2 linked regions of the Homo sapiens genome follow. The protein of the gene in region 1 interacts with the protein of each later gene in a pairwise test. Each region holds a gene or a part of one and is shown in the gene's direction. Other genes may lie near its edges.

Region 1 (7,027 bases):
GCTGGTCTGGAACTCCTGACCTCAAATGATCTGCCTGCCTTGGCCACCCAAAGTGCTGGGATTACAGGCGTGAGCCACTGCGCTCAACCTAGGTGTCCACCACTATGCTCGGCTAATTTTTGTATTTTTGGTAGAGGCGGGATTTCACCATGTTGGTCAGGCTGGTCTTGAACTCCTGGCTCCGGTTATCCACCCTCCTTGACCTCCTAAAGTGCTGGGATTACAGGCGGTGAGCCACCACACGTGGCCTTGATCATGCAGTTTTAATGGAGGGGAGTGGAAGTGACAGTAGAGGCCTTTTGACAAGATTTTGCTGAACAAATCAACAAGTAGCTAGAGGCAAAGTTGGCACAGGGGAGGTATGACATGATTGGGTAGAACTGAGCATGTTTAATTACCAAGTAGACAGGGCTCAGTGGAGAAAGGGGAAAAGGAAAAAAAGAAGAAAGCATGGCTCCGGGGTATGTGAGGTTGGACCCAGAGCAGAGCTGTTGTTCACGATGTCCGCTGTAAGGGGCCCACTACGTGCTTACAAACTCCTGGACTCTGACTTGACTTCACAAAGTCCACTTCCAAGAGTAATGTCAACCAGCTGGAGAGGAGGTGAGAGTCTGTAAGGCTGCCCCAGACATCTGAAGGGCTTTGGACAAGCAGGGTGCTGGGGTAGGACAGTGGGCGATATTGAGGGCCCGCTTACTCTATGGCTGTTCACTCTGATTTTCTTTTTTTTTTCTTGTGTGGTGGGTTTTTTTTTGGAGTTAGTCTCGCTCCGTCACCCGGGCTGGAGTACAATGGTGCGATCTCCACTCACTGAAAACTCCGCTTCCTGGGTTCAGGTGATTCTCTTGCCTCAGCCTCCGTAGTGGCTGGGACTACAGGCGCCCACCACCACGTCCAGGTAATTTTTTTTTTTTTTTTGAGACAGAGTCTTGCACTGTCGCCCAGGCTGGAGTGCAGTGGTGCGATCTTGGCTTACTGCAACCTCTGCCTCCCAGGTTCAAGCGATGCTCCTGCCTCAGCCTCCCAAGTAGCTGGGACTACAGGTGCCCACCATCACGCCCGGCTAGTTTTTTGTATTTTTAGTCGAGACAGAGGTTTTGTCTATTGGAACTCATGATCTCAAGTGGTCCCACCCACCTCGGCCTCCCAAAGTGCTAGGATTATAGGTGGGAGCCACTGTGCCTGGCCTCACCCTGATTTCTACAGTATTTCACAACTTGGGGGCAGCATTAGCCACCAGAGAACATTTGGGAATGTCTGGAGACATTCGGTTGTCAGAACTGGAGGTGGAGGGTGCTACTGGCATCTAGTGGGCAGAGACCAGGGATGCAGCTAAACATCCTACAGTGCCTGGGCCTGCCTCCACAACACAAAGAACTGTCTGGTCCAAAATGTCAGTAGTCCTGAGGCTGAGAAATTGTAGCTTAGAGGCACCGTTTCGCCTGGCTGTGTGCAGCTGAGCCACTCAGTACATCCATGGAGTAGTCAGATATTTGTTTGGAATCTTCCAGAGCTCTGGTTTTACTGGGCGCGTACAGTTAAGAAGTTCATTGAATGAATTCCATGTATTGTGAGGAAGGAATGTAAAATGATACTTGCTCTAAGCTGGATTATGAAGAATGAGGAGAGAAAGAGGCTGTGTGGATAAGGAAGCCAAGGTCTCTACAAAGGAGGGGGATAGCAGTTGTGGTGGAGGGAGTAGGATGTGATTAGGTGGGGTTTCCTGCAGGGAATGGTGAAATCATTGGAGGTAGGAGTCCAGGAGAAAATGGTTAGTGGATTATGGCTTCATCTCCCCTACCCGGAACGATGGCTGGACCTAAGGCTAGGAACAGAACTCGAGGGAGGCCTTCAGATACTTTTCATGAGTGAGGAGCAAGACCAGGGTATGGTCAAAGACAAAAGGACAGGCGGTGCCTAGCCTGACCCAGTGTTGGGAATGGAATTGCATAAGAAGCCCCCACCTGTAATTGAGCTGTCCCAGACCCATTATCCCAAGAGACACAATACAAACTTGCCCTGACTCTCCAAGGAGGAGCTTCTGAACTGTTAGCACAGAATTCCCTCCGTGGACAGGAGAGGAAGAATCTGCTGTGACCTTGCTCTGCCAGATCAGCATGTTGCAGTGGCCATATGCAGGGGATTTAGATAAGGCCCTGGGGAGGCGGAGACCATTACTTTCTAAGGTGGAGGCTAAACCCCAGGGTTTGTTGCAGACCCAAAGCACAGTTTGAGAATTGGGGATAGGATTATTTATGCCCAATCATTTGCCGTTCAGGATTATTTTATAAAAGTTGATGGAGTTTATGTACATAGTCAATAATTTGAGGTGGGCAATGAGCAATCCAGGTTAGGCTCCCCTTGACTCTCTTCCCAGAGGCTTCCATGTTCCACTCTCATTAGCAAGGGTGACATCTTTTAGTTAGGCTGTATACTTTGAAAGCCCTTGCATTCCAAATCACAGTTCGTGAGTAAATGCCGAGTGTTTGGTCTTGGTGATGTGTTCAGGATATCACATACTGTTCTGTTTCATTTGTGCCATTATGCTTGTTATTGGGAGAGGAGACACATCTTGTTATCTTTATAATCTGGTGTAGACACAGGTAAATTTGAAAGATTTACACAATTATCCTTTTAGACGTTGTCAATTTGAAATGATGAAGCACTGTATGATAATATGTCATTATCTGCAATGGCTACATCAAACTTTAAAATTACTAATTTTCCCTGAAGCTAGTGCAGTTGAGCATTTATTTAGTATGAATTTGCTTTTCCTTTTCTTAAATTACACTTACCTTTACTTTTTGTCTGTTTTTTAAATTGTGGGGTTTTCTTATGGAGCTTTTTTCCCCACATGATGAGCCCATATTTCTTGAAAAGGCCACCAGCTATATCTATTATGCTTGATGTAAAATGACACTTTGAAACATTCGATTTCCAGCTGTGCATGGTGGCTCACGCCAGTAATTCCAGCACTTTGGGCAGCTGAGGTGGGCGGATCACCTGAGGTCAGGAGTTCAAGACCAACCTCGCCAACATGGTGAAATCCCGTATCTCCTAAAAGTATAAAAAATTAGCCGTGCGTGGCGGCTGGTGCATGTAATCCCAGCTACTCAGGAGGCTGAGACAGGAGAATTTCGTGAACCCAGGAGGCGGAGGTTGCAGTGAGCCGAGACAGCACCACTGCACTCCAGCCTGGGCGACAGTGAGACTCTTGTCTCAAAAAAAAAAAAAAAAAAAAAAATTCCATATACTCCTATGCTCTTTTTGAGCGTCACCCTTGACAGTGTTCATATAAAAATACGTCTTTGGCCCCATGATACTGCAGTGTTTTTCTTGCTTGTGACTATGTTATAGACCCTGCTGTCTAGGTCAGCTGCTCCTCTTTCTCAGAAGACTGCCTTCCAGTGTGTGGTTGGCCTTACTCTGAGTTTGGACTTCAGGTGCCATGTACCACCCTGGTGGGAAGGGCATTTCTCAGCCCTCTTGCGATTGCCCTTTCTTCCCGATGCCCTCTTCCAGATCTTCAGCACAAGGCAGCAATTCTGCTATATTTTATGTGAACCTGTGAATCATCTGATCTGGTTTCTCCATTTATTTGCAGTGCACATAACTAAGTCTGCTGGTGAATTTGTCTGCTTGTCTGTATATGTCATCAGTTTGGCCTCATACTTGACTGGTATTTAGTTTGAATTGACAATTTAGGAGCAAAATCATAACTCCATAGACAGTGGAAGCCATTGCTGTCTTGTATCCTGGCAACATTACTGCTGATGAGAACACTAGAAAATCTTACCCTATGTTGTGGTTTAAAAACAGCCTGCTATGTTCCCATCCCTTATTTTTACTCATGAAAGTAAAAGTATCCTACCATAGACAAGCAGATTTACTAAATTTACTATTTTACCAAATGTAAGGCGTATAGTTTAGGAGGAACAACTCAGGAGCTCTTATAGGTGAACTGCCACATATTATCATGACAAATATGTGGAATAAATATAACAAGGAAATGCCCTTGCTCTAAACTGACTGAAACTTACATTTCTCTGTGTTCAAGGCACCACATTCACATGCATCGTCCTGTCTTGTAAACTCCTGATTTGTTTTTCAAACTGCCTGTGACTGATAATGTAATTTTTTGAGAGACCTGGAGTTAACTCTTAGCTCTCAATTGTATTTGGTATATTTCTTAATGTCTTGCTACCTCTCTCGTCTGTAAAATGGGGAAAATTTCTGTTGCATACTAAATAAATTTTTCTTTTTTTTTTTTCCAGCCACAAAAAAGCCACACCCAAGATCACCTGACACCCACCCTGACAAGTGTCCATGATGCTGGGCCCTGAGGGAGGTGAAGGCTTTGTGGTCAAGCTCCGTGGCCTGCCCTGGTCCTGCTCTGTTGAGGACGTGCAGAACTTCCTCTCTGACTGCACGATTCATGATGGGGCCGCAGGTGTCCATTTCATCTACACTAGAGAGGGCAGGCAGAGTGGTGAGGCTTTTGTTGAACTTGGATCAGAAGATGATGTAAAAATGGCCCTGAAAAAAGACAGGGAAAGCATGGGACACCGGTACATTGAGGTGTTCAAGTCCCACAGAACCGAGATGGATTGGGTGTTGAAGCACAGTGGTCCCAACAGTGCCGACAGCGCCAACGATGGCTTCGTGCGGCTTCGAGGACTCCCATTTGGATGCACAAAGGAAGAAATTGTTCAGTTCTTCTCAGGGTTGGAAATTGTGCCAAACGGGATCACATTGCCTGTGGACCCCGAAGGCAAGATTACAGGGGAAGCGTTCGTGCAGTTTGCCTCGCAGGAGTTAGCTGAGAAGGCTCTAGGGAAACACAAGGAGAGGATAGGGCACAGGTACATTGAGGTGTTTAAGAGCAGCCAGGAGGAAGTTAGGTCATACTCAGATCCCCCTCTGAAGTTCATGTCCGTGCAGCGGCCAGGGCCCTATGACCGGCCCGGGACTGCCAGGAGGTACATTGGCATCGTGAAGCAGGCAGGCCTGGAAAGGATGAGGCCTGGTGCCTACAGCACAGGCTACGGGGGCTACGAGGAGTACAGTGGCCTCAGTGATGGCTACGGCTTCACCACCGACCTGTTCGGGAGAGACCTCAGCTACTGTCTCTCCGGAATGTATGACCACAGATACGGCGACAGTGAGTTCACAGTGCAGAGCACCACAGGCCACTGTGTCCACATGAGGGGCCTGCCGTACAAAGCGACCGAGAACGACATTTACAACTTCTTCTCTCCTCTCAACCCTGTGAGAGTCCATATTGAGATTGGCCCAGATGGAAGAGTGACGGGTGAAGCAGATGTTGAGTTTGCTACTCATGAAGAAGCTGTGGCAGCTATGTCCAAAGACAGGGCCAATATGCAGCACAGATATATAGAACTCTTCTTGAATTCAACAACAGGGGCCAGCAATGGGGCGTATAGCAGCCAGGTGATGCAAGGCATGGGGGTGTCTGCTGCCCAGGCCACTTACAGTGGCCTGGAGAGCCAGTCAGTGAGTGGCTGTTACGGGGCCGGCTACAGTGGGCAGAACAGCATGGGTGGCTATGACTAGTTTTGTTAGGAACATTTGAGTTACTTCAATCATTTTCACAGGCAGCCAACAAGCAATTAAGAGCAGTTATAATAGAGGAAGCTGGGGGACCCATTTTGCACCATGAGTTTGTGAAAAATCTGGATTAAAAAATTACCTCTTCAGTGTTTTCTCATGCAAAATTTTCTTCTAGCATGTGATAATGAGTAAACTAAAACTATTTTCAGCTTTTCTCAATTAACATTTTGGTAGTATACTTCAGAGTGATGTTATCTAAGTTTAAGTAGTTTAAGTATGTTAAATGTGGATCTTTTACACCACATCACAGTGAACACACTGGGGAGACGTGCTTTTTTGGAAAACTCAAAGGTGCTAGCTCCCTGATTCAAAGAAATATTTCTCATGTTTGTTCATTCTAGTTTATATTTTCATTTAAAATCCTTTAGGTTAAGTTTAAGCTTTTTAAAAGTTAGTTTTGAGAATTGAGACACAATACTAATACTGTAGGAATTGGTGAGGCCTTGACTTAAAACTTTCTTTGTACTGTGATTTCCTTTTGGGTGTATTTTGCTAAGTGAAACTTGTTAAATTTTTTGTTAACTAAATTTTTTTCTTAAAATAAAGACTTTTTCACAATGACTGGCACAGATTACTCAGCAAAAGATAGCAAAACGGGTGGTTGAAGATAATTCATTTTAATCGTAATGTATTTTAGTGTGAATTTAAAAATTTCATACATCAAATCTATGATCTCCCTTATATTCTTATGATGAGGCTAAATAAAAGTCTAATAAAAATGTTAAATATGTGAATGGTGGAAATGGTGACTAGCAGCACACATTCTGGGAAGCATCAAATAGACACACGGCCCCAGCCACCTGCAACTTATGTGCACTGTTGTAAACCATTCAGAATTTTCCTGCTAGGCCCTTGATGCTGGAGTCACATCTGTTGATAGCTGGAGAACTTTAGTTTCAAGTACTACATTGTGAAAGCAATTATTTTGTTTCTAGTTTTTATAAAATGCTGATTTAAACTTTTTTTTTTGGTCACGCTCCTGATTTCTGTAGGGCGCATTTGTTAATTAGGTTATGACAGGATACACATTATCAAGCTTGAGACCCATTTTCAAATTGCTATCTACCTTGGCAACAGCAATGTTGAAATTCAGGCAGCTCTATATATAGCATACAGTATTACTATCATTTTAAACCTTATGCTAAATACAAACCATCAGGACTTTAAAATGTGGAGTTTATTTAAAACCATTCTGTGCAAAAATGCTATCTACCATTGGGAATTCTTCAACTTTATTTTCCCACTTCACTAGCTGTATAATGTAACCTATATGTTATGATTTTACCAATATTAAGGGTCTTCATTAGTATCTTAAAGAGTAAATAAATGCTCTTGGTAAAACCCCTGAGAGCTGCATTAAAAATTAGGTCTGTGAAGTCTTCAGCCTTTTCTAGCC
Region 2 (7,027 bases), on another chromosome or scaffold:
CAAAGAGCTTCCCAGTTTTCATGTTAGTAAACTTGGAAATAATTTTCTCATGCACCTGATTTTTAGCTTCCTATTTTAACACCGATTATTCTTAAACTTTATGGGAGTAAATACCCATCTGTCATTAACTAAAATGAGTAGTTAGGTTTGGAAGTAGACAGTGGCTTACCAAATTGAGATTGGCAAACTTGTGGGAACTCTTTGTTTTCCTTTCACATCTGTGAGTTCAAATATAATACAAATTAATGTAGAACTAGAGTACTAAAGTGACTTTTTTTCAGAGCATGTATACACTTTATTTTATCATTGTTCTCCTCTAGATACTTTCAGTTTCTGATGGCATAGCTGAAGTCATGTTGTGGCTTTATTAGTTTCAGGAACTTGGATGTCTGTTTTAAACCTTAGCTATCATTTTAGTCATCCCAGGAAGTTTGACTTGACTATTCTTATTTAAATATTTTTCAAACTGTTGCAACTTAATACTAGGAAAAAGGAAGGACTAGCTGAGCTGACGGAAGTTAAGCTTGCTTTCTTAACCGCAAGGCTTAGAGCCTTTATTATGCTAATTGGCATTATGAATTTTTTAGGGACTCCTTAACACACAGCTATCCCAAACCTGTTTTTTAGGACACCTAAGTGTTACTAATTCAGAAATGCTGTTCAGGGTCTAGGGATGGTTGACAAAGTATAGCCATATTTTTGTGTAGCCTGAGAGCTAAGAATGTTCTTTACATTTTTTAAATGGTTGGAAAAGAATCAAAAGAATTATTTTGTGACACGTGAGAATTATGTGAAATTCAAATTTCAGTGTCCATAAATAAAATTTTATTGGAACACAGCTGTGCTCATTCTTTTTTTTTTTTTTTTAAGTATTGTTCATTGCAGGTGACGATGGCAGAGTTTAATAGTTGTCACACACAGTATATTGCCCCGAAAACTCCATATTTGCTCTCTGGTGTTTACAGAAAAAGTTTGCTTACCCTCATGTGGGGTGTCAGCAGTGAGGTTTATAATACCCCTGGGTATGGAAAAGGAAAAGTGATCAGTGGAAGTAAGGGGAGGGGGAGCAGAAGCATTGAATATCGTTGGTGAAATGAATGCCTCTAGTAGCTGCATCAATACTTACCCTGGTAAGTTAGTTGAAAACCAAAGTATGCTTTACTATTGGTTTTTGAAACATCTCATAATACTACCATTTAGCCAAAAGATTGTCATGACATTCCCAAGAAAGAATTTTAATAAAACCAAAATATTGCAACATTATAAGAGACCGTCAATCAAATCCAGCACATTGTTTTCATTATGTAGTGAATGAATGGTCTGAAGATACCCTTCTGTGAATGTTAATGTATTTGTGAGTTTGTTAGGCACATTAATTCACATTGTTTATGGCTTGGTACCATTAATCTGCCTTAGGAATTGAATTCTGTGAAGAGTTAAGTTCCTTTGTAAGAACTCATTGTACTTGCTGGAAACTTGCCATTAAAAATGGAAACTGCAGCTTGTGAATGGGGAAGGGTTTACAGGAACATAGATTGTTCACCAGACATTGATGCATGCCTGCAAACGGAGACACCAGCTGGCTTCAATGAAATATAAATGGTTCTAGGCGAACAAATGAGACGTCTGTTGGAGGAGGCAGCATCTCTCTTCAGATGTCATTTACATTGAGCCAGAAGTATTTTTTAATATTTTGTGGTTATTTAGACAGCTGTTAAGTTGCTCCTAGTTTCTCACTGGATTTGGCAAATAAATGTTTTTAATGGTCTTTGTACTTTGAGTCTTAAACCTGATATTCTATTTAGGACTGTGTATGTAGCTGCAGTTACTGCATATTTCTGTGATTTATGCATTTAAGAATCCTGTAAGTTTATGGCCATTAAAAACTGCAGTTGTATTCATTACTAATATAGAGCTTTTTTTTTTTTTTTTTCTTGAGACAAAGTCTTACTCAGGCTGGAGTGCAGTGGCATGATCTCAACTCATTGCAACCTCCATCTCCTGGGTTCAAGCGATTCTCGAGCCTCAGCCTCTGGAGTAGCTGGGATTACAGGCGTGCGCCACCACACCTGGCTGATTTTGTTTTGTATTTTTAGTAGAGATGGGGTTTCACCATGTTGGCATGGCTGGTCTTGAACTCCTGACTTCAGGTGGTCCAACTGCCTTGGCCTCACACAGTGCTGGGATTATAGGTGTGAGCCTGTGCCGCCGGCTTTTTTTTTGTTCGTTTGTTTTGAGACGGAGTCTCACTCTGTCGCCTAGGCTAGAGTGCAGTGGCGCAATCTCAGCTCACTGCAACCTCCACCTCCTAGTTTCAAGAGATTCTCCTGCCTCAGCCTCCTGAGTAGCCGGGATTACAGGCGCACACCACCACGCCCGGCTAATTTTTGTATTTTTAGAAGAGATGGGGTTTCACCATGTTGGTCAGGTTGGTCTTGAACTCCTCACCTCATGATCCACCTGCCTCAGCCTCCCAAAGTGCTGGGATTACAGGCGTGAGCCACCGCGCCTGGCCTCCCTGGCTTTTTTTTTTTTTTTTTTGGATGGAGTCTCACTCTGTCCCCCAGGCTGGAGTGCAGTGGCACAATCTCGGCTCACTGCAAGCTCTGCCTCCCGGGTTCACGCCATTCTCCTGCCTCAGCCTACCAAGTAGTTGGGACTACAGGTGCCCGCCACCATGCCTGGCTAATATTTTGTATTTTTAGTAGAGATGGGGTTTCACCGTATTAGCCAGGATGGTCTCGATCTTCTGGCCTCATGATCTGCCCGTCTCAGCCTCCCAAAGTGCTGGGATTACAGACGTGAGCCACTGCGCCCAGCTCCCGGCTTTTTTATTAAGGTAGGAAAATAAAGCCTAACTTGAGCACAGCAACACATAGGCTAAACATGGCTAGATTAGAGGTTAGCCCCTCTTTAGGTGTGGAAGGTACTATTCACTATGGTTGCCACGGAGACATAACCTGAGATGTAAAGGAGAATAATATAAATTTCTTCAGTTTTTTAATGGCTTTATTGGAAAAAGAATGTAGTACATACTAATCGGGTCTTTGTTTTGTTTTTGTTTTCTGAGACAGTCTTGCTCTGTCCCAGGCTGGAGTGCAGCAGCACAATCTCGGCTCACTGCAATCTGCCTCCTGGGCTCAAATGATCCCCCTGCCTCAGCCTCTCAAGTACCTGGAGATACAGGCATGTGCCACCATGCCCAGCTAATTTTTGTATTTTTTTGTAGAGATGGGGTTTCACCATGTTGCCCAGGCTGGTTTCAAACTCCTGGGGCTCAAGCAATCTGCCCGCTTCAGCCTCCCAAAGTGCTGGGATTACAGATTTGAGCCACTGTGCCCGGCAGGTTTTTTCTGCTAAGTGTTTTGATAGATCTAGAAAGACAGTGATAGAAAGCTTTCGTTTTGAAAGATTGAGAATAAAAGCTTCAGTGGAAGTGCCCAGTTGTGAGTATCTTTCCTATTTGAAAAGAGATTTTTCTCTTTATAAAAGAAGAATGTGAAGTAATAGCATGGGTTAAGTTTGGGCCTCTTGAATAGTTGGTTCATGAAACTAGATAATGGTATTAGGAGTGGGAGTAGGTATTTTCAAGTACCTATCACTGAATTAGTTAACCAGCAATTTGTAGTCTCTGTAGTCCTTGTGTTAACCCTATGCCTAGCACTGTTGATTCAAAGAACGTTCTCTATATATGTGAAACTACAGGGAATTTCTTGCCTTTGAGAGCACCGCCTGCTTTTAAAAAGGTATGAGAGAAAATATTTATTTAAGCCTATACAAAACTATCAGGCATCTTAAGTCTTGACATTTCCCAAGGTTCTTAGAGTTGCTATGGTTGGAAAAAAATGTAATTTCAGTTTTACCCTGTAATTCTGTACCAAATTTTCTTTTTAGACTGTTCTATGACATTGTCATAATGTGTAACATTTTTGACAAAAAATGTGACTCCAACGAGTCGTAATAAATACTGCAATTAGTTTAAGACTTTGAATAATACTTTTCTGAGGAACTTTAAGTATATTTCTCTCTTCATTTTTCTGGATAATGATGAGAACATGGATTACATGAATTACAATATTTTAAGTAGCCCCATGTATAAGAATTTTTCTATTATCAGGTATTTGCTCATTGGAAGAAACATTTTAAAGGGTTTCACAGGATTTTTAGAAGAAAATACTTTTTAATAAGAAGTTGTGATTTATTTCCAAAGAAATTGAATTATTTGTTATAGCAAGTTTCTCACATGAGATGATATTGTATCTATATTAAGCAGGGAATCCCTGCAGGTAATTTAAAATTCTAGTGGATGTTAGTTTTTCAGCTTTGATATTTATTTTGGGCCTATTAATCAGAATTTTACAGTATAATAGATTTTGTAATATTTTTGGTGATGAGGATTTTACAGTATAACAATTTTTGTAATATTTCTTGTGATGGTAGGCTTTGTTGGGTGGTAAACTTTCTAGCACTAAGAAAGCAGCTCATAATAATATACTTTTAGTTTGTCTTGGGGTGTAGCTTTTTTTCCCTTTAGTTTTTATCTGTCACAAGTGTCACAGGCAGATCATCTTGAGATGTACTAGTGGCTATTGTGATTTTATTAACATTGTAATCTTTCCATTAAATACAACTTCTGGATTTGACTTTTTAGGTCTTTTGATGTACCTGGATTTCTTAACATTATTAAAACATTTAAATTCTTCTTCTAGAAGTCACTTGTTCGAACCCTTATGAACCTCATTTGAGTTCTAGATACTGCACTGGCTAGGCAAAGAAGAGTAAGAGTCTCTCTTGAGAGACTGATGATAGAGCAGCCACTGTTGATACTTTATTAGCTAGCACTTTATGCTTTATCAGTATACCTATTTTCATTTCTTATTAATATTTTTCCACATTAGTATTCATTTCCCCTTTGATAGCCTAAATATTGAAATTGGTTTACTGATTAAATCACTTTTGAAACAGTTTTTTTCCTTAAAGTGTTAAGGCTTGTTTACTAAGTTTCTGAAATTGTGTCAGTATATGATGTGTATTCTCACTTTGGTTAGCATTCATTTTCATTTCTGTTAATGTTAATTCTTGTAAAACTCCCTCAAAAAAATCAAACTAGTTGGAATGGTTTGAGAGAGGGACTTGGATTTTTCTTTTGTTTATTTTTGTTGAACTGATGAGTAAATGAAGAGTAGAATGTACAGTGAAGTTTGAAGAAAGCCAATTTTTCAAACATTACTGTCCCCCTGAACTGTGCCTTTTAATTATGATAGGAGATTGTCTTGTTCCTCCTACTAAAATATGATTATCTAGAAGAACTTTTCTAAGTGGTATACTTGATTTAAAGTATAGAAGATTTTAGTTGCTATGATAGAGAGGGGGACTTGATGTTCACTGTGACAATCTTTCATAGCCCAGGGTAAAATAGTGCATTATCAGAGCCTGGCATTGTAATTAGTTGTACATGTGTGGAAATACTGACCTATCAACTTGGAATAATTCTTCACTTTTTTTTTTTTTTTTTTGAGACAGAGTCACAGTCTGTCGCCCAGGCTGGAGTGCAGTGGCGCAATCTCAGCTCACTGCAACCTCTGCCTCCTGGGGTCAAGCGATTCTCCTGCCTTAGCCTCCTGAGTAACTGGGATTACAGGTGCGCACTGCCACACCTGGCTAATTGTATTTTTAGTAGAGACAGGGTTTCACCATGTTGGTCAGGCTGATCTTGAACTCCTGACCTCGTGATCCGCCCGTCTGGGCCTGCCACAGTGCTGGGATTACAGGCGTGAGCCACCGCGCCCGGCCATTTCTTAACTTTTAAAACACCAATAAAGCATTCTGGCTAGATATAAATACCTGTCCTAAGATGAGGCATTTTAGAGTCTTGAAGCATCCCTTATATACATTTCTGGATGTAACATGAAGAGGTGTTACAATTTTTTTTTATAGCTAGTCATTGCTGTTTCAGGGGTCTCATTAGATGAGAGTTATGCTTCATTTTGGTTATTGCCTTTTTCTTTTTTTGAGATGGAGTCTCACTCTGTCGCCCAGGTTGGAGTGCAGTGGCGCAGTCTCCGCTCACTGCAACCTCTGCCTTCTGGGTTCAAGTGATTCTCCTGCCTCAGCCTCCCGAGTAGCTGGGACCACAGGTGCCCACCATCATACCCGGCTACTTTTTTGTATTTTTAGTAGAGATGAGGTTTCACCATGTTAGCCAGGATGGTCTTGATCTCCTGACCTCGTTGATCCGACCACCACAGCCTCCCAAAGTGCTGGGATTACAGGCGTGAGCCACTGCGCCCGACCAGTTATTGCCTTCTTGACAATCCCATTTTTTGAAGTTTCAGTGTATGAAAGTATAAATTATGCATAGTACTGATGTCTATTCTAACTCCTGTTTTCTAAAAATTAACTTTCCTCGTTGTGATATTTATTTATTTTTGAGACAAGAGTCTTACTCTGTCACCCAGGCTGGAGTGCAGTGGCACGATCTCGGCTCACTGCAATCTGCCTCCTGGGTTCAAGCGATTCTCCTGCCTTAGCCTTCTGAGTAGCGGGGATTACAGGCGTGCGCCGCCACACCCAGCTAATTTTTGTATTTTTAGTAGAGACAGGGTTTTGCCATGTTGGCCAAGCTGGTCTTGAACTCCTGACCTCAGGTGATCTGCCCACCTCTGTCTCCCAAAGTGCTGGGATTACAGGCATGAGCCACCGCGCCCAGCCCATTGTGATTTATTTTAACATTAAATGCTAATAGAATTTTGATTAAGTGTAGTAATGTACTACTGGAGAGGGTAGTAGATGTTAAGAACTTGGGCCCTGAGGTCAAACCTGGCTCTGCCATGTTCAAGCCGTGTGACATTGCAGAAGACACTGAAGCAGAGCCTCATTTTTCTCATCTCAGGAAATGTGCACATGATGATAGTAGCATATGCCTCTTAGGGTTGTGAGAATTAAGAGCATTTACTGGCCAAGTGATGGAAATGGTCTCAAGAAGGCAACCTCAAATGGGACTTTTACTCACCAGCAAGTTTGCCTT

Evidence for each region. Proteins that work in one complex are often made in the same cells at the same time.
Region 2: the proteins of HNRNPF (region 1) and AKIRIN2 interact in binary tests that used the Homo sapiens proteins (3 or more experiments, as listed by UniProt).

The regions. Positions count from the first base shown.
Region 1 is NC_000010.11:43,385,184-43,392,210, reverse strand, and holds the end of HNRNPF (heterogeneous nuclear ribonucleoprotein F), read left to right. Parts: intron 1-4,274; 5' UTR 4,275-4,326; coding exon 4,327-5,574; 3' UTR 5,575-6,593; downstream 6,594-7,027.
Region 2 is NC_000006.12:87,692,214-87,699,240, reverse strand, and holds part of AKIRIN2 (akirin-2), read left to right. Parts: intron 1-7,027. UniProt on the Homo sapiens protein: Molecular adapter that acts as a bridge between a variety of multiprotein complexes, and which is involved in embryonic development, immunity, myogenesis and brain development.